3 linked regions of the Homo sapiens genome follow. Each later gene encodes a partner of the first gene's protein in a complex. Links are inferred from orthologs where the notes say so. Each region holds a gene or a part of one and is shown in the gene's direction. Other genes may lie near its edges.

Region 1 (8,238 bases):
GAGGTTGCAGTGAGCCGAGATCACGCCACTGCACTCCTGACTGGGTGACAAAGTAAGACTCCATCTCAAAAAAAAAAAAATTCGCCTCCTAACCTCACTGAGTTAACTGATCAAGACCTCTCATGCTCTGCCGCTGCACAGCTGTCCCTCCAGCGCCTTGTCTGTGTGTGTGGGGGGTGGCTGGTGTTTTGAATATCTTCCGGTTCCCAGAGGCTAGCTCAGTGTCTGACAGGGCCCTGTGGGAGTGTCTAATTCTCACAGCATCTCCGTGCAGGAGGGAAGGAGAGGGTCACGCCTGGGCCCTGAGGCATCTTGTATCTGAGGCCCCCACATCAGCACGGATCTCCAGAGGCATATACTGTCCTGCCGACTGGTCTGCTTTCTGTCTGATTGAAATTGGAGGCTCAAAGCCAAGACCTTCTCACTTGCAGTGAAGAACCCTTATGGGGCAAAGTTTTCCCCTCAACCTGCTCTATCATGAGCTCCTCCTGCTAAGTGGCAGAGCTTAGCCCGTGAATCAGAGGATACGCTACATTTCAAACCTTAGGAGCAGTCCTGTCACCAAAATTCAGCTGGTCATTGTCAGTTTAACTACCCACTACGTAACCACTCACGTATGAACCTGCAACAGCCACCAATCAAGTTGAATTCTCAAATATTTGCTACTTCATCCTCAATGTTTTCCCATTTCTTTTTTTTTTTTTTTTTGAGACGGAGTCTAGCTCTGTCGCCCAGGCTGGAGTGCAGTGGCGCGATCTTGGCTCACTGCAAGCTCCGCCTCCCGGGTTCACGCCATTCTCCTGCCTCAGCCTCCCAAGTAGCTGGGACTACAGGCGCCCGCCACCACGCCCGGCTAATTTTTTGTATTTTTAGTAGAGACGCGGTTTTACCGTGTTAGCCAGGATGGTCTCGATCTCCTGACCTTGTGATCCGCCCGCCTCGGCCTCCCAAAGTGCTGGGATGACAGGTGTGAGCCACCGTGCCGGGCCAGTGTTTTCCCATTTCACGTGCTGCGTGTGAAAATCCACTGCGTGCGACACTTGCGCTATGTGCACTTTATGTACACATCTCATACTTTGTTAAAAAGGCACTTTCAGACAAACATATTATTTATTTATTTAGAGACATGGTTCACTCTGTCACCCAGGCTGGAGTGCAGTGGTGTGGTCTCTGCTCACCGCAACCTCCACCTTCTGGGTTCAAGTGATTCTCCTGCCTCAGCCTCCCAAGTAGCTGGGATTACAGGTGCAGGCCACCACGCCCAGCTCATTTTTTTGTATTTTTTTTTTGAGATGGAGTTTTGCTTTTTGTTGCCCAGGCTGGAGTGCAATGGCGTGATCTCGGCTCACCAGAACCTCTGCCTCCTGGGTTCAAGCGATTCTTATGCCTCAGTCTCCCGAGTAGCTGGGATTACAGGCATGTGCCACCATGCCTGGCTAATTTTTGTATTATTAGTAGAGACGGGGTTTCTCCATGTTGGTCAGGCTGGTCTTGAACTCCCGACCGCAAATGATCTGCCTGCCTTGGCCTCCCAACATGCTGGGATTACAGGTGTGAGCCACTGTGCCCAGCCATTTTTTTGTATTTTTAGTAGAGATGGGGTTTCACCATGTTGGCCAGGCTAGTCTTGAACTCCTGACCTCAAATGATCCGCCTGCCTCGGCCTCCCAACGTGCTGGGATTACAGGCGTGAGCCACCGTGCCTGACCTGAGTATATTTATAGAAGTAGAACAGGCACAGGACTCTCCACCCAAAGTCACCCTGGTGCCTCTCTCCCCGGGGTCTGACTTAGGCCTTCAGCACCACGGTGTTTTCTCTAGATGGCATCTCATGAACACTGGGGGTCTCTTGCCTCAGCCTGTCCCTGGATTCCCTTTCATGGGGAATGTAAAAGCTCCCTATTTAAGCTAACGTGTAGGCTGGTGGGGCTGGATGTGAGGGAGGGGCAGGTGGAGAAGGAAAGGGCAGCATCCCTCAGATCTGTGTGGAGCAGGATCGGAAGGAAAGGCACACTCGAGTCGGCCAGGACCCGGGGAAATGAGCGAGAATGGTCAGCTCTGGGGCGGTATATAAAACTGGGGGTGGGAATACTTCCATATACTCCCAATTCCACAGTGGGTGAACTGAGTAAGTTTAAAAATAAGATAAAGACATAACGAGGTGAGGCAGGTAAGTTCAAAAATAAAAATGAAGGCCAGGCACTTTGGGAGGTTGAGGCGGGCGAATCACAAGGTCAGGAGCTCGAGACCATCCTGGCTAACACGCTGAAACCCTGTCTCTATTAAAATTACAAAAAAAAAAAAAAAAAAAAAATTAGCCGGGCGTGGTGGCAGGTGCCTGTAGTCCCAGCTACTCGGGAGGCTGAGGCAGGAGAATGGCTTGAACCTGGGAGGCGGAGCTTACAGTGAGCCGAGATCGCGCCACTGCACTCCAGCCTGGGCGACAGAGCGAGACTCCATCTCAATAAAATAAAATAAAAATGAAGACATACCTTTCAGGGGCTGTGGCCGCACTGTCCAGGAGGGAGGCCCGGCCACAGACACCATGCTGGCCGTGCGCTCAGCACCTATACATACCTGGGCACCTTCCCCACAAGGTGTCACAAAAGGGAGCCCAACAGCCATTTTAAACATTTTCTTCACTCTTATGAGAATTGCCACGAACAAATCTAAGAGATCATGGCAAAGAAAAGAATGAAATGAAACCAGAACATTTCAGCAGCTTTTGCAAAGATGTCAAGAGAACCAGTCCAGGAGTCAGACTGGCGGCATCCTTCCAGCTTCTTGTCATGAATTCTAAACCTCACATCCAGACTCCAAAGCTTAGAGAGTTAAAGAATCAGCTACTGGTCACCAAGCTCACGTGTGCAGGATGAGGGTCACAGCCAGGTTGGCTGCCTTCCAGCCCTGAGCTTTCTTGGGGGTGTGTGTGTGTGTGTGTGAACCACCTTCTTTTTGAGACGGAGTTTCTTTTTTCTTTTTTGAGATGGAGTTTCGCTCTTGTTGCCCAGGCTGGAGTACAGTGGCACGATCTTGGCTCACTGCAACCTCTGCCTCCTGGGTTCAAGTGGTTCTCCTGCCTCAGCCTCCTGAGTAGCTGGGATTACAGGCATGCACCACCATGCCTGGCTAAGTTTTTGTAATTTTAGTAGAGATGGGGTTTCATCATCTTGGCCAGGCTGGTCTTGAACTCCTGACCTCAGGTGATCTGCCTGCCTTGGCCTCCCAAAGTGTTGGAATTACAGGTGTGAGCCACCGCGCCCAGCCAGAGTTTCATCTTGTTGCCCGAACTGGAGTGCAATGGTGTGGTCTAGGCTCGCTGCAACCTCTGCTTCCCGTGTTCAAGCGATTCTCCTGCCTCAGCCTCCCAAGTAGCTGGAATTACAGGTGCCCACCACCATGCCTGGCTAATTTTTGTATTTTTAGTAGAGATGGGGTTTCACCACGTTGGCCAGGCTGGTCTTGAACTCCTGACCTCAGGTGATCCACCCTTCTCGGTCTCCCAAAGTGTTGGGGTTACAGGTGTGAGCCACCACGCCCGGCCAGAACCACCTTCTTTAAAGATGATCAGGCCGGGTGTAGTGGCTTATGCCAGTAATTCCAGCGATATGGGAGGCTGAAGCAGGAGGATCACTTGAGCCCAATTCAAGACCAGGCTGGGCAACACAGGGAGACCTCTTCTCTACATAAAATACAACAATTAGCCAGGCGTGCTGGCGCCTGTGGTACCAGCTACTTGGGAGGCTGAGGCGGGAGGATCACTGGAGTCCGGGAGGTGGAGGCTGCAGCGAGCTGGGATCGCGCCACTGCAGTACAGCCTAAGCAGTGGAGTGAGACCCTGTCTCGAAAACAAATACCTAATAAAGGCAGTCAGAGGAGAGGTTTAGCAAATTGCTAAAGAACAAATCTGAGATACCGTTAGTTTCCTTACTTGCAATCTTCATCTGCCAAAATGTCAATTCTGTGAATTGCGGACTAGTCAAAAACTTAAAGAAAACCCACTTTTGTGGAGGTGGGGTCGCTTTGCGTTTCCCAGGCTGGTCTGGAACTCGGCCTGCGCCCCTCAGTGCCAGGGCTCCAGGCGACGCTCGGGTGTCGGCAGCAGAGTGGACGCAGGAGCAGCTCGGACCGCGCTCAGAACACTCGGGACGAGGCCGCGGCTCCGCAGGCCTTGCGGGCTGGGGTCCCACGAAACAAAGGCGGCAGCCAGTGGCCAGGACGGGCAGCGTGGTTCACGGGGCCGTGGCTCCCTCGGGGGTCGCGAGCTCGGCGCAAACGAGCCCCTCTACCAAGGTCGCCTAGAGTCGCGACCCCGACATGCGGAGCCGCCCCAGGGGGGTTTCTCCCGGGTCCCTCCTGTCCCGAGGCGGCCGCTTTCTCCGGGGGCCGCGCCCCGCGCCCCAGCAAGGCCCGACCCGCGCCTGCGATTCCGCCCCCAAGGCGCTGCCGCACCGGGCCCCGGCCTCTTCCTCCGAGGATTCTCAGGAATTGCTGAGACTTGCGTGCCAGTGCGAGGCCCACAACACGCACACGCGCCCGCGCCCGCCAGACCCCGCCCCCGGCACCAAGCCCCGCCTACTGGGGGAGACCACGCCCCCAAGCGAGACCTCCCTCACCGAGCCACGCCCCACCAGGCCCCGCCGCTGCGCCAAGACTGTGCTTAGCCGAGCCCCGCCCGCCGGGCCCCGCCCCGACCCCGAGACTACTCCCGCCAGGCCCCGCCCCCGCGCCGAGCCCCGCCCAGTAGTCCCCGCCCACGCACCTGACCACGCCCACGAGCCGGCTCGAACACGCCCGCGCCGCTGACTGGCGGGTGGGGTTGTCGACACGTTCAACCCGTTCTGCTGGCTCGAGAACGAAGTAGGCCGTCTCGCTCTGGGTCTCCAGGCCCGCGACCGTCCGCCAGTCGTCCCGAGGTCAGTAGCTCCAGCGGTGCGTCAGCGTCTAGCCAGGCCTCGCCCACGCCGGCCTTGGTCGGGCTTCTTGTAGACGCGGGCCTGGCGCTATTGAGGCCGTTGCTGCGCGGGCGAGTGGCGCGCTCCCGTGGCGGGGCGGGGTCGGGCGGGGCAGGGGTCCGGGGCTATCGAGGCGGGGCCGAGGTTGCGCTGGGCAGCTGCGCCGCCGGGCGGACGTGGCGCGCCTTGAGGACGTCATCGCGGTGCACGCTCCCCTTTGGGGCTTGCCGGAAGTCCTTGCCCGGGGCGCGGGGCTGCGCCTGCGTGGTTCGTCCTCACGTGGCCGTCAAGCCCTCTAGTGCCTTAGATTCCAGCGAGCTACGCAAGCAATCCTGGCCCAGCCGAGCTTGCTTCCCCAAATCCCGTAATCCTTGACCTTATTCCCCCAAAGAAGCGGCCTCCCGGGAAGGAGCGCCCTGGCGGAGAAGACTCGAACGGCTCCCACAGCCGGGCGTTGGGGGAAAGGTGGGCGGTCTTGGTCGTGCGAGGTCGGGGAGGGAGGGTCCTCCGCTCTCCATTGCGGAGCTTCGCTCCGGGACCACCGGGGGACCGGACGCCGGGCCGCGAAGCTGCCGCCTGGGGCTGCGGGGAGGAGAGCAACATAACTGGAATGGCACTTAGGGGCCGGTGTCAGGGTTGTCACCGGGGTTGGCGGAAATGACGAAGGGGCCCCAGGCACGTCGTGTTACTGGGCGAGGTTCCAGCCAAGGTGCCCACGCGCCTTGGGGGAAACCAGAGGACTTCTGCACCGTTTCCCGAGGACAGTTTGGCAGTGTTTCAGAAGGGCCTTAGAACCAGGCAGGCCCCCTTCTAGGATGGTGGAAAGCCTAAAGATCTGAAAACGGTCTCAAGTGTCGTCTTAGCGATTGGCTGACTAAACCGAATGCAAGCCGGAGACTGCACACGATGTTGCCGTTAACAGTTACACTGGGCCGGGCAGTCAGAGGCAGGCGGATCACCTGAGGTCAGGAGTTCGAGAACAGCCTGGCCAACATGGTGAAAACCCGTCTCTACTAAAAATACAAAATTAGCCGGGCGTGGTGGCAGGCGCCTATAATCCCAGCTACTTGGGAGGTTGAGGTAGGAGAATGGCTTGAACTCAGGAGGCGGAGGTTGCGGTGAGCCGAGATCGTGCCACTGCACTCCAGCCGGCTGACAAGAGCGAAACTCCTTCTCAAAAAAAAAAAAAAAAAAAAAAAGTTACATTAGGCTGGGTGCGCTGCAGCCTGTAATCCCAGCACTTTGGGAGGCCGAGGCGGGCGGATCTCTTGAGCCCAGGAGTTTGCGACCAACATACTGAGTTTGGCCAAAATAGTGAGACCCCCGTCTCTACAAAAGATAGAAAAAATTAGCCAGTTGCGGTAGTGAACGCTTGTAGTCCCAGCTACTTGGGACGCTGAGGGAGGAGGAGCACTTGAGCCCTGGAAGAGGAGGCTGCAGTGAGCTATTTTCTCATCCCTGCTATAACGAATTTGTCACAGGCTGTTTTATAGGCCTGGAGCTCAGAAGCCCGAAGTGAGTTTTAGGAGGTTAAAATCAAGGTGTTGGCAAGGGTAGTTCCTTCTGGAGTTTCCCAAGGAGAATCTGCTTCTTTTCCTCTTCCAACTTCTAGAGGCCACCTTCTTCCATCTTCAAAACCTACTGTCTCTGCATAAGAACTCTCATGATTATATGCCGGCCGCCCAGACACCCCAGGGTAGCCTTCACATCTCAATATTCTTAATATTTGCAAAGTCCCTTTTGCCACTTAAGGTAACACCACAGGTTTGGAGATTAGGAGGTGGACATCTTTCAGGGCCATTCTTATTTTAAAAAATGTACTGTCGATAAGAATAGTTAAAATGTAAAATATTTGAAGGGATTTATTCTGAATCGAATATGAGTGACCGCGGCCGGTGACACAGCCCTCAGGGGATCCTGGGAACATGTGCCCAAGGTGGTTGGGGCAGTTTGGTTTTACATGTTTTAGAGAGACATGAGGCATTAATGAAATACATTTAAGATATCCATTGGTTTGGTCCAGAAAGGCGGGACCAAACAAAAAAAAAAAGATTTTGAACATGCTTCCCGAGCTCAGGCATGAAGAACTCTTGACTGACAGAAACGGAGGGTGTGTCCAAAGTTTTGAGGACGGCCGAGCGGCGCTCCAAAACCCGTCCTCACAGCCTCGCCCCGTTCGCCTCAGCTACAACAAATCATCGTCAACCTGTTCCACCTTCTCCAGTCTGGTAGCAAAAAGGGGTGTCTCAGGTTTGCTTTATTTTATTGTTTGGGCAATTCCTGGAATCCGGCCTGCTTGTGGGAGGAGGCAGGGGCCGGTCCCTCGAGGGTGGTGGGAGCTGCCAGAGCTGGAGGGATGGTCTGGGGGAAGGCGGCTGTACGGTGGAAAGGCTGGTTGGGGCCAGAGTGGGAAACGGGATGCGGACGTCAGGCTTCACCCCCGACCCAGGGGGGAGTGGGAAAGCTGGGGTAGTAGCTGGGACGAGGCCCGGGGGCTGAGCCCAGAGGGTCGAGTGGGCGACGACTAGCGGGCGCGGCCCCCAGGGTGGACTCCCCGCCAGCCCCGGCCTGGAGGCTCCGCCCGCCCCCGCCTGGGCGGAAGGAACGCGGAGCGGCTCTGGCCTTGGGTCTGCGGCGGCGGCGTCGGGTGAGCGTCCCGGGCGGAGCGGGCGCGGGCGGGGGCAGAGAGGCAGGGGAGACCCCCTTCGTGTTTTTGTGAGGTTTCCTCCCAGCCCTTTAGTCTGCAGCAGGGTGTCCAGAACTAGCAGGTTCGAGGGACTCGACGCGGGCGCGGGCGGGGGTCCCAGGGACCGGGAACTTTTGCGCGTCGCCTGAGCGTGGCCCGTGTCTCCCTAGAGGGTGGCCCCGCGCCCCCGTCACGTCGGAACATAAGGACCTGAATTGGCCTCCAGACGGCCCCTCCCATGTGGCTCCCCAGGGTGGGGCCCAGGCCTTGGGTGCTGCGGAGACCTCCCTCCGTAAGGTTGAGAAAGTCTGGTCTCCGGATAAGGGACCGTTAGGGCCTCTGTTCAGATCCCTGCCTCAACCAAAGCAGGCTGCCAGCTGGTGGTAGTGGGTTCCTGAATGTGCTTTTAGCTTTGGCTGTGTAGGGAGCCAGGGACTTCTCCAGTCACAGAGAAGGGCGTTTACTCCCGCATTTTCATGGGGTCCTCAGTGGGATCCGTGACCCACAGAGATTCAGAAGGGCCTTTCTGGGATACAACAGGGTCTGGCCAAGCCTGAGGGGTAGGGACGGGGCTACTCCCGCAGCGCTAGTTGCAGA
Region 2 (7,039 bases), on another chromosome or scaffold:
TGTTTGTTTGTTTGTTTTGAGATGGAGTCTCACTCTGTCACCCAGGCTGGAGTGCAGGTGATCTCGGCTCACTGCAACCTCTGCCTCCTGAGTTCAAGCGATTCTCCTGCCTCAGCCACCCGAGTAGCTGGGACTATAGGCCCGTGCCACCACGCCTGGCTAATTTTTTGTATTTTTAGTAGAGACAGGGTTTCAACATGTTAGCCAGGATGGTCTCGATCTCCTGACCTCATGATCCGCCCACCTCAGCCTCCCAAAGTGCTGAGATTACAGGCATGAGCCACCGCGCCCGACCTAATTTTTGTGGTTTTGGTAGAGGCAGGATTTCTCCATGTTGGCCAGGCAGGTCTCAAACTCCTCGCCTGAAGTGACCCCTCTACCTTGGCCTCCGAAAGTGCTGGGATTACAGGCATGAGTCACAGCACCTGGCCCTGTACAACTCTTATAGTAAGAGCCTCAAATAGAAAATGTCAGAGCTGGTATCTGGACAAGACTATACAAAATCTATACCCGACATCGCTGTAACACAAAACTTATATAACAACTTCATTTAAAGAGACACTAACCTATATAATAATTCATTTTGTGTGAGCTCTGAAATCTTAGCAAATGCATCTGTGTGCTCAAAATGCAATGGGGATGAACAGAGGATGTTTAAGGGGTACAAATATAAGAAATGATATAAGAAATAAGGCCTAGTGTTTGATAGATCAGGAGGATGACTATAGTTAATGATAATCTACTGTATGCTTCAAAATAGCTAGAAGAGAATAATTTGAATGTTTCTAACATAAAGAAGAGGCAAATATTTAAGGTACTCGATATCCCAGTTTCCCCGATGTGATCTTTACACATTATGTGAATATATTAAATTATCACATGTACCCTGAAAGTATGTACCTCTATTATGTATCAATAAAAAGAAATAAGGCCAGGCGCCGTGGCTCACGCCTGTAATCCTAGCACTTTGGGAGGCTGAGGTGTGCGAATCACCTGAGGTCAGGAGTTCAAGACCAGCTTGGCCAACGTGGTGAAACCCTATCTCTACAAACATAGAAAAATTAGCTGGACGTGGTGGTGCACGCCTGTAATCCCAGCTACTCGGGAGGCTGAGAAAGGAGAATCATTTGAACCCGGTAGGCAGAGGTTGCAGTGAGCTGAGATCTTGCCACTGCACTACAGCGTGGGTGACAGAGTGAGACTCCATCTGAAAGAGAAAGAAAGAAAGAAGGAAAGAATGAAAGAAAGAAAGAAAGAAAGAAAGAAAGAAAGAAAGGAAGGAAGGAAGGAAGGAAGGAAGGAAGGAAGGAAGAAAGAAAGAAAGAAAGAAAGAAAGAAAGAAAGAAAGAAAGAAAGAAAGAAAAAGAAAAAGAAAGAAAGAAAGATTTTAAAAATATGCAATGGGACACGAATGCAATTTTCCAGTTTCTTAGGAAACACACTTTATTTCATCCCTCCTAAGACACACCTCTCCATAATTCCATCGGGGCTCTATTCCCATTTCTTCCCTTTCCAGAGAAGTAAAGGACTTGTTATAGTTGAGGAAAAAGGAGAAGGCTTACTTCTTTCCTCTTTCATGCCAGAAACTTAATCGAAGGGGTCAGATCTACTTATTCAATGGCTTTCAGAGGAGACATGCAGGAGGCCCCACATAAGAGGGAAGGCCTAGGGCCACCTTTCTGAGGTTTAAGAGACCAGGAAGAGCTCAGTACACCAAATATCTTTAGAAATTAGGTAAGTAAAATATTACTCAATTTGGTGCAATTTAACCTGCACCATATTATTATGACAATCTTGTATTACTTTTAATGGCAAAAATTGCAATTACTTTGGCACCAACCTAATAAATAGTGTGCATTGTCTTTCCCATAGATAGCCACTGCTGCATTAGGGAAATCTGTGTGCAGGAAGGTATCTATGGTTTGGTACCTCCCTGTCAGCAGGTTAAGAGCAAATATTGCAAGGGTACCCTGGGGCTGAAGAAATTGCAAGTGTTAAACATTATATTTTTGCACATAAATGCTATGCAAAAAGTCATTGATCAATGCAGTGTACTCAACAGTGGTTTTTACCATAAATGGAGAAGTCTTTGTCTGGGACAATATTTTACAATGTTCATCGGTTTCCAAAAAATGACTTAATACTGGGGCATAATTCTGACTATTCCTCTGAGTGGAAGTGTGCATTGGGTCTGAAAATGTGTCGTTAAATTAGGCTGCAAGACAAGTTATGCTAATAAAGAACCCGGGAGAAGTGGCTTGTGTCTGTTCAAGACAAAATCATGCTGAAGTCACAGAGAATTTTGTTTACCGTTGGCTTATACTTTATTATTCCTGCTTCATATAAAACAGTCTTCTCCCAAAGCTCGTAAATATCAAAGTAGATCTTTTCTAAAGTTCTGCAGGCAAATGAAAGTAGTTGGAAATGTACACAGGAAATCTACACAAGGGAGAATCAGAAAAATCTTATGAGCATGTTCTCAATACAATTTTAGTGATCAGGAGTGGTGGCTCATGCCTATAATCCCAGCACTTTGGGAAGTCCAGGGGGGCGGATCACTTGAGGTCAGGAGTTTGAGACCAGCCTGGCCAACATGGTGAAACCCTGTCTCTACCAAAAGTACAAAATTTAGCCGGGCATTGTGAAGGGTGCCTGTAATCCCAGCTAATCGAGATGCTGAGGCAGGAGAACTCGGGAGGCAGAGGTTGCAATGACCCAAGATCGCGCCACTGCACTCCAGCCTGGGCAACAACAGCAAGACTCCATCTCAAAAAAAAAAAAAAAACCACAATTTTAAAGGATGAATATGGTTGCAAATTGGGCAGGTTATGTATGGTCTGAGTTATTTCTTAAGACACTGCAACAAGTCTGATGCGTCATAAGCACAGATGTCTCCAGAAGCCAGGCAGGTGTCATTACTGAACAGACAGGATGAAAGTCAGGAGGCAGAGATGGAGTCAGAGAACAGCCCCGAGCTAGAGCCCCTTCCACAGAGGCAGCTTTACCCAGCTCTAATTGATACCACACAGCAACGGAGACACAGTGCACCAACCAACATCATGTGATTTTTAAAGATAAGACAGTAATGAAAACTTTTAGTGAACTATTCCAATGTCAAACTTTACCTTCCAAACCAAACATTATAAATAGCACTGTATATGCTGAAAAGAGGCACTGTTTAGCCAGGTACCTGCCCTGGGGCTGCAGTCTATGTCTTTTGCCTCATACTATAGACACTTGAGTGCAAGTCTTTCTACCCAGTGTGTCTGTCAGCATCACAGAGCGGATACTCTACGTATCATTCACCTTTACATTCTCATCACCTGCAAAAATGATCTCCACACAATATACATGAAAAAAGAATTTGCTTCATGATAAAGCTGCTAATGAATGTCGGCCAGAAGAGGACTTCAAGGCAGAGCAATATTAGCTGCGCATTGAGTCCTCACTGGGTCACCATTGTGTCCACATTTACCTAAGGACCCCAGTGATAAAATTATTGCATTTCTAAATGACAGGAAAATTGGATGGTAGTAAAAATTATGTAGATTAACTGTTGGAAGGTATATTATATCATTTAAGGGTCTAATATCAATTTTCTAATCTGAAAGCTAGACCAGATTTAACATCTCTTAGTACTCAGGTCTTACCACTGCAATTCACTTCCCACCTCTGTACAATTTCCCCACATCATCCCCTGTGCCCAGAATGCTCATCTCTTCCCTAAAGTCCCTGAAAACTCCCTGCTTATCTTTTAGGGCCCTGCTGAAATCAAACTTTTTTTTTTGAAGTCTTCCTTGTCCCTCAAGCCAAGTGATTTCCTTCACCCTCGGCGTCCCCATGAAACCATGTTCACACAAGTGTAATACAATTATGTGTCTACAATTACTTTCCTGTATGTCTCTGAGGGCCAAGAATAAATGTATGCTTTGTGTATCAAACTGTACACTTGACCTCTATACTTTCAGGAATACAGTGCTCTGTCCTTAAATGTTCATTTGTAAATACAGAACCATTTTCTTGTTAATATCACAAAATGAAACTTACCAGGAAGATGAATGACAACCCCAGAACACAGTGTTTTGTAGAAAATACCATAGGCTGAAAAGATCACAGGAATACCGAGTGCTAGGTTGGAATCTTTCATGACACCAAATGTTCATTCATTCTCTGCCAGACTTTACAACTGTCCTCGGTGTGTTTTTAGGTTGTGTAACTTTACACAAAGTGGAAGCAATAATCAGGGCAAGACTTAAGAGAAAGTGGATCCAATGCAAGAGGAGTAAAGAAAAAAATCCCTCAAGTATGTGTAGCAGATTGTTTTAATTATCTACAGAATCTTGTGCCCTAAGAAATTAATAGCTCAAGTTTCCAGCAAGAGTGGTGGATGAGATGGAGAGCATTTGTGTGAGAGAGAACCAAGGATATTACTAAAAATGAAAGGGAAGCTGGGTTTCTCCTGGGCAAACAGCCCTCAGTGGCTCTATTTGTTCTAACTACTATGCCTGCCTTCATGTACTTTGGTCATTTAGTGGCCTGCCAGAGGACAGTTATAAAATCTGTGGTCATTCTGCAGGCAGCATATAGTTTTCATCCAGAGTTTGGATCTAACCAGCAAAACTCTGTCTTACACAGGATGACTTGGAATTAGAGTCCTTATAGCAGAAAGAGCAGCAGGGCTGTCCTTGGGTATCCGTTGCTCAGCCAAGTCATCAAATAAAAAGGATGATTGCACAAGTGGACTATGTACCAATCTGTGGGTTTCTGCATGGCCAAGAGCCAGACCCTCCCTCTGGGCTCTGCTGGCCCAACCCACCAAGGGATGCTTTATTTAAACAGTTCCAAGTAGGGGAGACCAGCTGCCCCTGAACCCCAGAACAACCAGCTGGATCAGTTCTCACAGGAGCTACAGCGCGGAGACTGGGTAAGTCAACGATCCCCAGAGCTGGGACAGAAGGGGCAGCAATGGGGCAGCAACTGAGGGAGAAGAGAGCTGACGTTAGTGCTTAGGAGACGTTGCACACTTTGCAGACAGGAAGTAAAGGAAATGGGACCCCAGAGTGGCCGCAGAGGGGCCTGTGGGGTAAGACACTACAGTGTGTGTCATAACCAAGACCCGATCAGGGAGTAGTTACTTCTCTTCTTTTCTTACAGGAAACATGGTTCCAAAACTGTTCACTTCCCAAATTTGTCTGCTTCTTCTGTTGGGGCTTCTGGCTGTGGAGGGCTCACTCCATGTCAAACCTCCACAGTTTACCTGGGCTCAATGGTTTGAAACCCAGCACATCAATATGACCTCCCAGCAATGCACCAATGCAATGCAGGTCATTAACAATTATCAACGGCGATGCAAAAACCAAAATACTTTCCTTCTTACAACTTTTGCTAACGTAGTTAATGTTTGTGGTAACCCAAATATGACCTGTCCTAGTAACAAAACTCGCAAAAATTGTCACCACAGTGGAAGCCAGGTGCCTTTAATCCACTGTAACCTCACAACTCCAAGTCCACAGAATATTTCAAACTGCAGGTATGCGCAGACACCAGCAAACATGTTCTATATAGTTGCATGTGACAACAGAGATCAACGACGAGACCCTCCACAGTATCCGGTGGTTCCAGTTCACCTGGATAGAATCATCTAAGCTCCTGTATCAGCACTCCTCATCATCACTCATCTGCCAAGCTCCTCAATCATAGCCAAGATCCCATCTCTCCATATACTTTGGGTATCAGCATCTGTCCTCATCAGTCTCCATACCCCTTCAGCTTTCCTGAGCTGAAGTGCCTTGTGAACCCTGCAATAAACTGCTTTGCAAATTCATCTGAAAGTGTCTGTGTGTCTTCATTAGCCGCTCTGCTGTCATTTAGTGACAATCTACTCTAGAGATTTTTCTTCCTCTAACCTGAGACTTCCGGGAAACAGAGAGATTTGAAGATAAGAGACGCTTTCTGTCATGAAACAGCACAGTCTTATCCCTCTCCCTGCTTTAGGCTGAGAAGCTGAGGTCTCAACCGATATCTAGCAACTGTCGAAGACTCTTGCTTTGATCAAGCTTTAGTCATCTCCTCTAAACCCTCTTCACAACTAGGTCATCCTGTTGGGCTTCCTAGTCCTTCCTTGTAGAGTCATTTGTATTTATTTTTTATTTTATTTTATTTTATTTTATTTTATTTTATTTTATTTTATTTATTTTATTTTTTGAGACAGAGTCCCGCTCTGTCGCCCAGACTGGAGTGCGTGGCGAGATCTCAGCTCACTGCAAACTCCACCTCCCAGGTTCAAGCTATTCTCCTTCCTCCGCCTCCCGAGTAGCTGGGATTACAGTTATGCACCATCATACCCAGCCAATTTTTGTAATTTTTAGAGAGGGGGTTTCAAGATGTTGGCCAGGCTGGTCTCCAGCTCCTGACCTCAGGCAATCCGCCCTCCTCAGCCTCCCAAAGTGCTGGGATTAGAGGCATGAGCCACCAGTGCCAGACCTAAAGTCAGGTTTAACAGAAGTCCTCCTAACTTGGTTTATCATGAGTCTCTCACCCTCAATATTTGACCAAATTCCTTAATTCCCCCATCATCCTCCATGTGATAACTGATTCCTGACCTACCTTCAAAAAACAAAAATCCAATTACATCAACTTAGCATTGGTCTCCCTAGCCTTGATATCTCCTCTAGGTAATTTTCCATCCACTGACCCCTTCCCGACACCAACCTATAACGAGTATAGATCTCCACTTGTTTTAGTTGTATTTCACAATTGAGCCCAATTTGATACTGAGGTCCTATATGATGCTCTATGGTTGAAGTCTGGTTTTTATTGACATGATTTCTATCCCAAGAGATATAGGGGCTGCAGTGAAAAAGCTGAAAATGCACATGTTTCATTATGATTTATGAATGATAAATTTTGATAGGATTGAATGTTACAATAGAAAACACAAAAACAGAAAGTAGAAAAAGTGAAGAATGCTATAAACATGGTGAAACCAAGATAAAAATAAGTTTAGCCTCAGAGATATTCCTTTTAAATGAGCACATCA
Region 3 (7,929 bases), on another chromosome or scaffold:
GTGCCTGATTTTTGAACTGCTTTTTTTTGTTTTGTTTTTGCTTTGTTTGCTTTGTTTTGTTCTGCTTTTCTTTGCTCAAATAAACTCAGCTAAAATGTACACTTGTCTAAGGTTTTATTCCATGTAACAGTCCGAAGGTGTCCAAAGAGGCTTTGGTTTCTGGCCATGTCCCAACTTTACAGTTTTTCCAGAGTTATATTTTTGACAGGTGACACATGACCCAAAAGTAAGCTCAGTTGCCTTTTCAAAGTTTTCCTACCAATGTTTACTTAAGATAGTAACCAATTTGTCTATGCCATAATGGGTGTTTCATGGAGAAATCCAGATAATGTAGGGGAGGAAATATCTTTCTTATTTGTCTTAAGTTCTAAGGCGGGGCTCTGTAACAGAAGGCAGATTAAAAAGTGAAAAGCATACACATTTATTTAATGTAAGTTTTACATGGCATGGAAGCCTTCTGGAAATGAACCAGTCTGAGTGGATGCTTATATACTAAGTTAGACAAAGAACAGTAAATTGTGAAAACAAGTCAAAGGGATATGGGCTAGGGCTGTTAATCGTGGAGAAGTGGCTAGGGAGATAAGGGCTAGTTTAACAAGGTTTATTTGTAGTTTTCTCTCAACCTCAGCTGCCCCCATCTCTGGTAATAAGAATGTCTTCCTTCTTCCACGGAGGGTCCCTGCTACGTGGGAGCATTGTCTCCTGCTTTTAGAAAGATCAGAGTGCCCTTCTTGCATCTGCTGTTTTTCAAGAGCTTTTAATTCAAAATAATCCATATGCCAGAAAGGCATATTTTGGGGTGGTATGTTTTGAACTCCTTTAGAAATATCTACTTGAGATCATCTGGTGTCACCAAGCAGCACCAGGAATTATCTGAGTGAAGAGTACAACTAGATGTTTTCCATTCTTTTTCAAAATCAGGGGCTAAATGTCAATATTTTATAATGGCCTCTTTGAATCCCCCAGAGATTTATCCTTTAAAGGTATAGATAGAGTCATAAGCTTGGTTAAAGTAGCTTCTTTGGCATAATGATCTGCTAGAGAATTTCCTTTAGTTTCCATATTGTCTCTTTTTATATGGACCTCTACCTATATAATAGCCACTTCTCTAGGAAGTGGGGGTGCATCTGAAAGTTCCTTAACTTGCTGTCCATTTCTAATGCCTATTTTCTTTTCTTTTCTTTTCTTTTTGAGACGGAGTTTTTGCTCTTGTTGCCCAGGCTGGAGTACAATGGCACGATCTCGGCTCACCGCAACCTCTGCCTCCTGGGTTCAAGCGATTCTCCTGCCTCAGCCTTCCTGAGTGGCTGGGATTACAGGCATGTGCCACCATGCCCGGCTAATTTTGTATGTTTAATAGAGACAGGGTTTCTCCATGCTGGTCAGGTTGGTCTCGAACTCCCAACCTCAGGTGATCCACCCGCCTCAGCCTCCCAAAGTGCTGGGATTACAGGTACGAGCCACCATGCCTGGTCTTCTAATGCCTATTTTCAAAGCATCTCAAAATCATATGCTATTTCAAAAGCATACCTGCAGTCTGTATATATGTTTGCTCTCTGGTCTTTGTTTAGGTGACAAATTCTAGTAAATGCAATACATTTTGCTATCTGGGCTGATTTTACTGCAGGTAGTAGACTTTTTCTTAAGAAGAGTTTAAAATAGGGGTAGCATAGCCTATTAATAATGTAGGGAACCAGAATATGCCAGCTCAATAATTTTGAGTTGATTATTTTGAAAAACAGTAAATGCAGGAAAAACTCAAAAAACAGGGCTCATCATTTCCACAGCTGCCTCTCCCCTCTTCCTTCCCTGCTGTGAAAGAACTATAAATGTCCTTTTTTTTTTTTTAAACAGTGTCTCTCTCTGTCACCCAGGCTGGAGTACAGTGGTACAATCACGACTCACTGCAGCCTCCATCTCCAGTGTTCTTCCACCTCATCCCCCTGAGTAGCTGAGACTACAGGAGCATGCCACCATGCATGGCTAGTTTTGTATATTTTGTAGAAAAAGGGTTTCGCCACCTTGCCCAGGCTGGTCTCAAACTCCTAAACTCAAGCAATCTGCCTGCCTTGGCCTCCCACAGGGCTGGGATTACAGGAGTGAGCCACTATGCCTAGCCAAGTTTCCCTTTTGTAAGAGAAATTTCCATTTATATTCCCATTTGTATGGATGTCTCCCTTTCCTGTGCCAGGAAGAGGAGGACTTAATCACGGAGGACTTATCAATGGAGAAGACAACCAACTTGAATTTGCTTAACAAACTTTACTAAACAACCCTTATATACTATACATTTCCTAGTCCGCTTGTCGCAACCTCCCCAGAAGCTCAAAATCCCTTTCCTATGTGCAGAGACAAAAGTGACTCCATCTTGAATGCTAATCTACCATGTTGACGTCTGATTAACCATGTCCCGGGAATGCCTCCTGATTTCTACTTTATTTACTGTCTCTAGTGTAGAAACATGTATTCACTATAAATCCTGCCTTTAGATCAAAACAACCTTAACGTTATCATGCAAATTATGGGCTATGACAAACACAGCATTCTTGCCTGTTCTGAAGAGTTGCCTTTCATTGTCTCTATATAGCACGTACCCCTTTTCCCTATGGTATATAAGCTCTGGGTCTGGGGAATAACAGTGCTGAGATTTACATGTCTTGCTGCTGCCCAAGACGACACTTCTGGCTATAAGTTCCCCAATAGAATAAAACACGCTTTACTGACAAACTGAATTTGTCTGCCTTTCTTTAGTTTCTAGGCTCCTTCAGCATTTGGGGCCACTTCACATATGTGGCCCTTTCATGGAACACTGTCTTGTCACTTCTGCACAATTTTCTTTGTCAAAATGGCCTATAAACTCTCAGGTTTAATTGCTTCTTTGAGTCTTCACTTCTTTTTTTATGAAGACTTCCATATTCATGTAGAATATTAATATTAAATTAAATTTTTATGCCTTTTCTCCTGTTAAATCTGTCTTTTGTCATTTTAATTTACAGGGCCCCCAGCCCTCTAGGAGGGTAAAGGAAGAATTGATTTTTCTTTCCTCAGTGTACTAACTTCAAGTTTCAATTCTGGGGTATGTTCCATCAATAAATCATATTAGGTCCGGGTTCTCAATAGGAGTTGCTAATAAATCTGACTGACATGCAGAATGTTTCCTACTGAGGTAAGACAATCAAGAGGCTCCCCTTCTGGTAGGGACAGAGGGTGGCAGAATTCAGTGTGTTGCAGAGATGAGTAGTAATTTATGAGAGGGAGAGAGGGATAGAATCTTATAAGAGGTTAATCGGCTGCCTGAAGTGTGCAGTGAGTTCTCAGTCAGGTGTAATGCCTGTGCTGCGTGAGAAACCAGGAGGTCAAGCAGGGAGTCTAGAACAAGTTCAGCAGAAGCAACAACAAATGTTGCCATGGCATCTACTGCCCTAAGACAAGCGGGGCTATGCCTCTGCAACTGGGTCAAGGATAAGGCTGCAGTAAGGGCTTCTGATGGTTCCCCATTGAAGTGCAATTAAAGCTCCAAGGGCTTGTCTAGATTGCTATGCATAAATAGACAAAATGGCTTCCTGTAGTTTCAGGATTCCTAGGGCCAGGGGCTGTTGAAGAGCCTTATTATAGTTACAGAAGATCTGTTCACATCTGAACTGTGGTTCTGAAATCATCTTGCTGGGTGGAGGCCACTTTTGTGCAGCCACGCCCAGTGCCTTAGTGGGGTCCACCTGACTAACCAAACCATCCCACCAGGCGCCCTTCAGGTGAGTCCTGTGCCTTATTTATGTCTGTATCCCACAGTCTAATGAATGAATGAACACATTCTAACTTGACTATTCAAGAGAATAAAAGTATTATTAAAGACTCAGAAAAATAAAATACAGGTGGGGGCTGGGGGAGTAAGGAAACTGTAGGGGCCAAGGAAAAATTCCCCTTTCACCCTCCAAAGGTTTGCTGAAAATCAACTGACAAAAGACAGATTGATAGGAAAAAACGCATACAAATTGATTTGATCGTAGTTTTACACGACACGGGAGCCTTCAGAAGACCCAAAGATAACAGGGGAAAGTGGGCATTCTTACACTTGGATATCAACAAAGTATGAACAGCTGTGTAGAAATATGACTGGACAACAGGGCGATCTAATGAAAATAGACTGAGTGGGGAAACCCAGCAAGGCCTCCCTGTCTAGATTCTTCTTGGCCTCTCTGAGCATTCGTCCTTTTTTTCTGGGTATGGGGGGCAGGACCCTCTCTGGAATGAGGATCTTACGACCTACAATCACACAAGGTAGGTCAGATAATTTCACTATGGCCACTTTTTACACAGAAAGGCTGAAACAATCTGAATACACAGCACGAAGGGATATTTTGATAATTCTTAGAGGTATCCAAATTGTTACTCAGCAAAAAAACAGGTCTCTTTCTAGGAGGGCATTCTGCTGCTAATAAATATGATATTCTTTGTATTTTTTCCCCAAAAAGAATTTGAGATTTGGGATTTAAGTTTATCTTTAGTTCCTCTACTCAATTCCGACCTACAGGGTCAGTGGTTACTGTAGATAAGAACAGCCCCATCCTCTCGATGCCCCCAGAGCAGGGGTGGAGGGTGGGTGGGAAGTGGCCAGAACTGGGTGAGCGCACCCTAGAGGCCTCCTCCTCCTCCCTATTCAGTTACTCCCCCTTTCTTCTCCAGATCTGGGAAGCCTTCCAGCTGGGGGCAGCAGGACAGCCTCCATTCCCCCCGACCCCGCCTCCCATCCCCGGGAGAGGTAGCGTTGGGAGAATGCCCTCCTAGAAAGAGACTTGGGTTTTGCTCCCTAGGAGCCCTGGAATAGCTTTGGCCAGAATTCCCTATCTCCCATTAGAACCTCTCCTTTGCGTCCTTTGTTAACCTCCAAGTCTACTTGGTGAAAACGCCCACGAAGAAGTAACAAGGACTTTGTTCCTAGTGTGCCAGGTTTGGGCACCAGTGCTGTAGTGGCTTTCTCTGCTGCTCCTTGTGCATCAGCAGACAGATGTGGTTCACATAGGAAGAAAGACTAACGTAGGCAAAGATTTGCTCTTTCTTCAGCAGCCCTAGAAAGACGGCGGCCTGGGTGATTCACCACTCCTTCCTCACGTCCTTGATTTTATTTGAACTGAGCTCCAGATGCTCCTCCCACCCTTTTCCTCTTGGAAGCCAAACCCCTTTGTAATCTGTATAAGGTCCACACCCCGGGAGCTGAGTGATTGCAGAAACTGGCCTTCCATCTCTCTCAGACACCAAGCTGCAGATCCAGGTAAGCAGCCCAAGAGGTGTTCTCAGGTGCCGCTTCTGCTTCAGGGTTGCAGAAGAGGGAGCTAGGGCCAGTCCACAGCACTGAGAAAGATTGGGTGATGCTAGCGCTGAAAAAATGTGGCCCAGGCAAACATCAGCTGGGGGCAGAGGGGTCAGGGTGGAACGTGCAGGCTGCAGAGCATCCATGGGACTGGAGAAGAAGGAGCCTCCAAATTGGGGGAGGCCAGCGTTTCTCTCTGGAATACAATGGAATCTTTTATGATGCCAGTGTCAGGCACTGGCCTGAGTTCCCTTATGCTCCAAGACAACAAGGCTCTGTCACCCATGGCCCTGGATGTCGGGGATACAATTTGGTTCATGATTTATTCAAACTGATGTTTCGATGAGCCATTTGAGCACTGGGTACAAATGTATTTTGGATCAAAGAAACTCCAGTATTCAAAGATAGGAACTGACAGGATTTTAGGTCACTTTGTAGGTCACCACCTAGAGGGGAGGAAGACCTCGCTTTGGAGAGTGGGAATAAAACGCTCGTGGAAAAGGGTACACGTGAGTGTCTCATTACACGAAAAACCTCAGGAAGTAGGATGGACGTCTTTCTGGCTGACCTGAAACAGAAAGTGTAAACCAGGCAAGCCATAGGTGGGAGCTGGAGTTCTTTTTCTAAGAGGGCTCTTTTCCTTCTCTCTCCTTTTCTCAATTAGGCTTTTCTGGGAAAGTGAGGCCACCATGGCTCTGGAGAAGTCTCTTGTCCGGCTCCTTCTGCTTGTCCTGATACTGCTGGTGCTGGGCTGGGTCCAGCCTTCCCTGGGCAAGGAATCCCGGGCCAAGAAATTCCAGCGGCAGCATATGGACTCAGACAGTTCCCCCAGCAGCAGCTCCACCTACTGTAACCAAATGATGAGGCGCCGGAATATGACACAGGGGCGGTGCAAACCAGTGAACACCTTTGTGCACGAGCCCCTGGTAGATGTCCAGAATGTCTGTTTCCAGGAAAAGGTCACCTGCAAGAACGGGCAGGGCAACTGCTACAAGAGCAACTCCAGCATGCACATCACAGACTGCCGCCTGACAAACGGCTCCAGGTACCCCAACTGTGCATACCGGACCAGCCCGAAGGAGAGACACATCATTGTGGCCTGTGAAGGGAGCCCATATGTGCCAGTCCACTTTGATGCTTCTGTGGAGGACTCTACCTAAGGTCAGAGCAGCGAGATACCCCACCTCCCTCAACCTCATCCTCTCCACAGCTGCCTCTTCCCTCTTCCTTCCCTGCTGTGAAAGAAGTAACTACAGTTAGGGCTCCTATTCAACACACACATGCTTCCCTTTCCTGAGTCCCATCCCTGCGTGATTTTGGGGGTGAAGAGTGGGTTGTGAGGTGGGCCCCATGTTAACCCCTCCACTCTTTCTTTCAATAAAACGCAGTTGCAAACACCTGATTTCTGAAGCGGTTCTGTCTAGGTACTGTTTCTGGCATTGCCTTCCAGCAAGGGGTAAGAACTGTAAATCTGATTCACTTTGGAGAACGGTGAATGGAGTAATTAAATGCCTTCCCTTCTGACTTGGATTTTAGTGGCTTGAGAAAATTCCTTTCCTTGTAGATTCCCTGATGCCAAACATAAAACTGTTAAGTGTGGGCTGTTTTAGACAAAAGGGAGCTACAGCCTGGGACACTGCCATGCAGGGTGAACTGACAGAGGGGTGAAGCTCAAATACAATCATTCTCTGGCACAGAAGGAAGGCAAGTGTGACCTCAGGAAGATCCTGCTTAGCCTCAGGGTGGGGAAGAGGACTCAATGAAATTATGATCCTAAATTTCCATTTTCCTTTTTTTTTTTTGAGTGAGCTATTACTAAATCAGAAAAATGGGCACCTCTTAGTTGGAAAGCCAGAACCTTACATTTTAGAGCCAGAAGTGACTTTGGAGAGCACGGAATTGAGGGATAGCAAGTAGATTTCAGTTTGTGTACCAACTCTAATTGGAAGTGCCGGTCGGGCGTGGTGGCTCACACCTATAATTCCAGCACTTTGGGAGGTTGAGGCAGGTGGATCACCTGAGGTCAGGAGTTCAAGACCAGCCTGACCAGTATGGTGAAACCCCCTCTCTACTAAAAATACAAAAAGTAGTGGGGCGTGGTGGCAGGTGCCTGTAATCCAGCTACTAGGGAGGCTGAGGCAGGAGAATCACTTGAACCTGGGAGGCGGAGGTTGCAGTGAGCTGAGATGGTGCCACTTCACTCCAGCCTGGGCAATAAGAGTGAAACTCTGTTTCAAAAAAAAAAAAAAGGAAGTGCCTACCCAAAATGCTGTAGCAAAAAATTCTGGACAGTGGTGTGGTTGAACAACAGCCTCTATCGAAGGCACGAGAGGGGGAAGGGTGTGTGTGCCACACATTTGCCATCCCTGACCAAATGTGACCCCTGCCTTTCCGGTGACTTGCACATGGCTTGTTGCTAGTTAGTGGCACAGCCGGGACTACACCCTAGGTTTCCTGACTTCCAAGCCATTGTTCTAACTCAGGAAGCCATTGCTCTAACTCAGGAAGAAAGCTCCCCTCCTCAGTAAGTGCTGTGGAGCGGTAGCTCTCTCCCAGAGCTTGCTGGTGGGCTCTCACAGGCTCCCAGTGTTCTTAGCCTGTGAGTCCACTCCACTCTTGGC

The links.
Region 2: the proteins of RNH1 (region 1) and RNASE2 are in contact, whole or in part, in a crystal structure (PDB 2BEX), measured with the Homo sapiens proteins. Residues at the interface, in NP_002930.2 of Homo sapiens: Gln11, Cys12, Arg34, Asp36, Asp37, Arg64, Ser65, Gln93, Asn94, Asp122, Gln148, Glu150, Tyr151, Thr176, Lys205, Trp262, Trp264, Glu265, Trp319, Lys321, Gln347, Ser349, Asn350, Trp376, Ala378, Asp379, Glu402, Asp404, Asn407, Cys409; in NP_002925.1 of Homo sapiens: Lys28 (codon at 5,241), Trp34 (codon at 5,259), Trp37 (codon at 5,268), Gln41 (codon at 5,280), His42 (codon at 5,283), Ser47 (codon at 5,298), Gln49 (codon at 5,304), Thr51 (codon at 5,310), Asn52 (codon at 5,313), Gln55 (codon at 5,322), Val56 (codon at 5,325), Asn59 (codon at 5,334), Gln61 (codon at 5,340), Arg62 (codon at 5,343), Arg63 (codon at 5,346), Cys64 (codon at 5,349), Lys65 (codon at 5,352), Asn66 (codon at 5,355), Gln67 (codon at 5,358), Ser91 (codon at 5,430), Asn92 (codon at 5,433), Arg95 (codon at 5,442), Asn97 (codon at 5,448), Asn111 (codon at 5,490), Leu112 (codon at 5,493), Thr113 (codon at 5,496), Thr114 (codon at 5,499), Pro115 (codon at 5,502), Asn119 (codon at 5,514), Ile120 (codon at 5,517).
Region 3: the proteins of RNH1 (region 1) and RNASE1 are in contact, whole or in part, in a crystal structure (PDB 3TSR), measured with the Mus musculus proteins. The link is inferred for Homo sapiens from one-to-one orthologs. Residues at the interface, in NP_001165571.1 of Mus musculus: Cys7, Asp32, Thr60, Asn89, Asp117, Glu145, Tyr146, Asn174, Glu202, Trp257, Trp259, Glu283, Ser285, Trp314, Lys316, Glu340, Glu397, Ser401, Asn402, Gln426, Val428, Tyr430, Asp431, Ile432, Tyr433, Trp434, Thr435, Asn436, Glu437, Arg443; in NP_035401.2 of Mus musculus: Arg26, Glu27, Lys32, Gln36, Pro48, Thr49, Gln53, Lys56, Arg57, Met60, Asn62, Gly63, Ser64, Cys65, Lys66, Pro67, Val68, Asn92, Lys94, Asn96, Leu111, Lys112, Gly113, Asn114, Ser115, Lys116, Asp121, Ala134, Glu136, Val143.

Annotation. Positions count from the first base shown.
Region 1 is NC_000011.10:503,791-512,028, reverse strand, and holds the start of RNH1 (ribonuclease inhibitor), read left to right. Parts: upstream 1-4,786; 5' UTR 4,787-4,916; exon of another isoform or gene 4,917-5,567; intron 5,568-7,027; exon of another isoform or gene 7,028-7,032; 5' UTR 7,033-7,205; intron 7,206-7,552; exon of another isoform or gene 7,553-7,602; intron 7,603-8,238. UniProt on the Homo sapiens protein: Ribonuclease inhibitor which inhibits RNASE1, RNASE2 and angiogenin (ANG). May play a role in redox homeostasis. Required to inhibit the cytotoxic tRNA ribonuclease activity of ANG in the cytoplasm in absence of stress.
Region 2 is NC_000014.9:20,950,613-20,957,651, forward strand, and holds RNASE2 (non-secretory ribonuclease precursor), read left to right. Parts: upstream 1-4,874; 5' UTR 4,875-4,924; intron 4,925-5,154; 5' UTR 5,155-5,159; coding exon 5,160-5,645; 3' UTR 5,646-5,824; downstream 5,825-7,039.
Region 3 is NC_000014.9:20,800,137-20,808,065, reverse strand, and holds RNASE1 (ribonuclease pancreatic precursor), read left to right. Parts: upstream 1-5,221; 5' UTR 5,222-5,269; intron 5,270-5,701; exon of another isoform or gene 5,702-5,817; intron 5,818-5,972; 5' UTR 5,973-5,997; coding exon 5,998-6,468; 3' UTR 6,469-6,838; downstream 6,839-7,929. UniProt on the Homo sapiens protein: Endonuclease that catalyzes the cleavage of RNA on the 3' side of pyrimidine nucleotides. Acts on single-stranded and double-stranded RNA.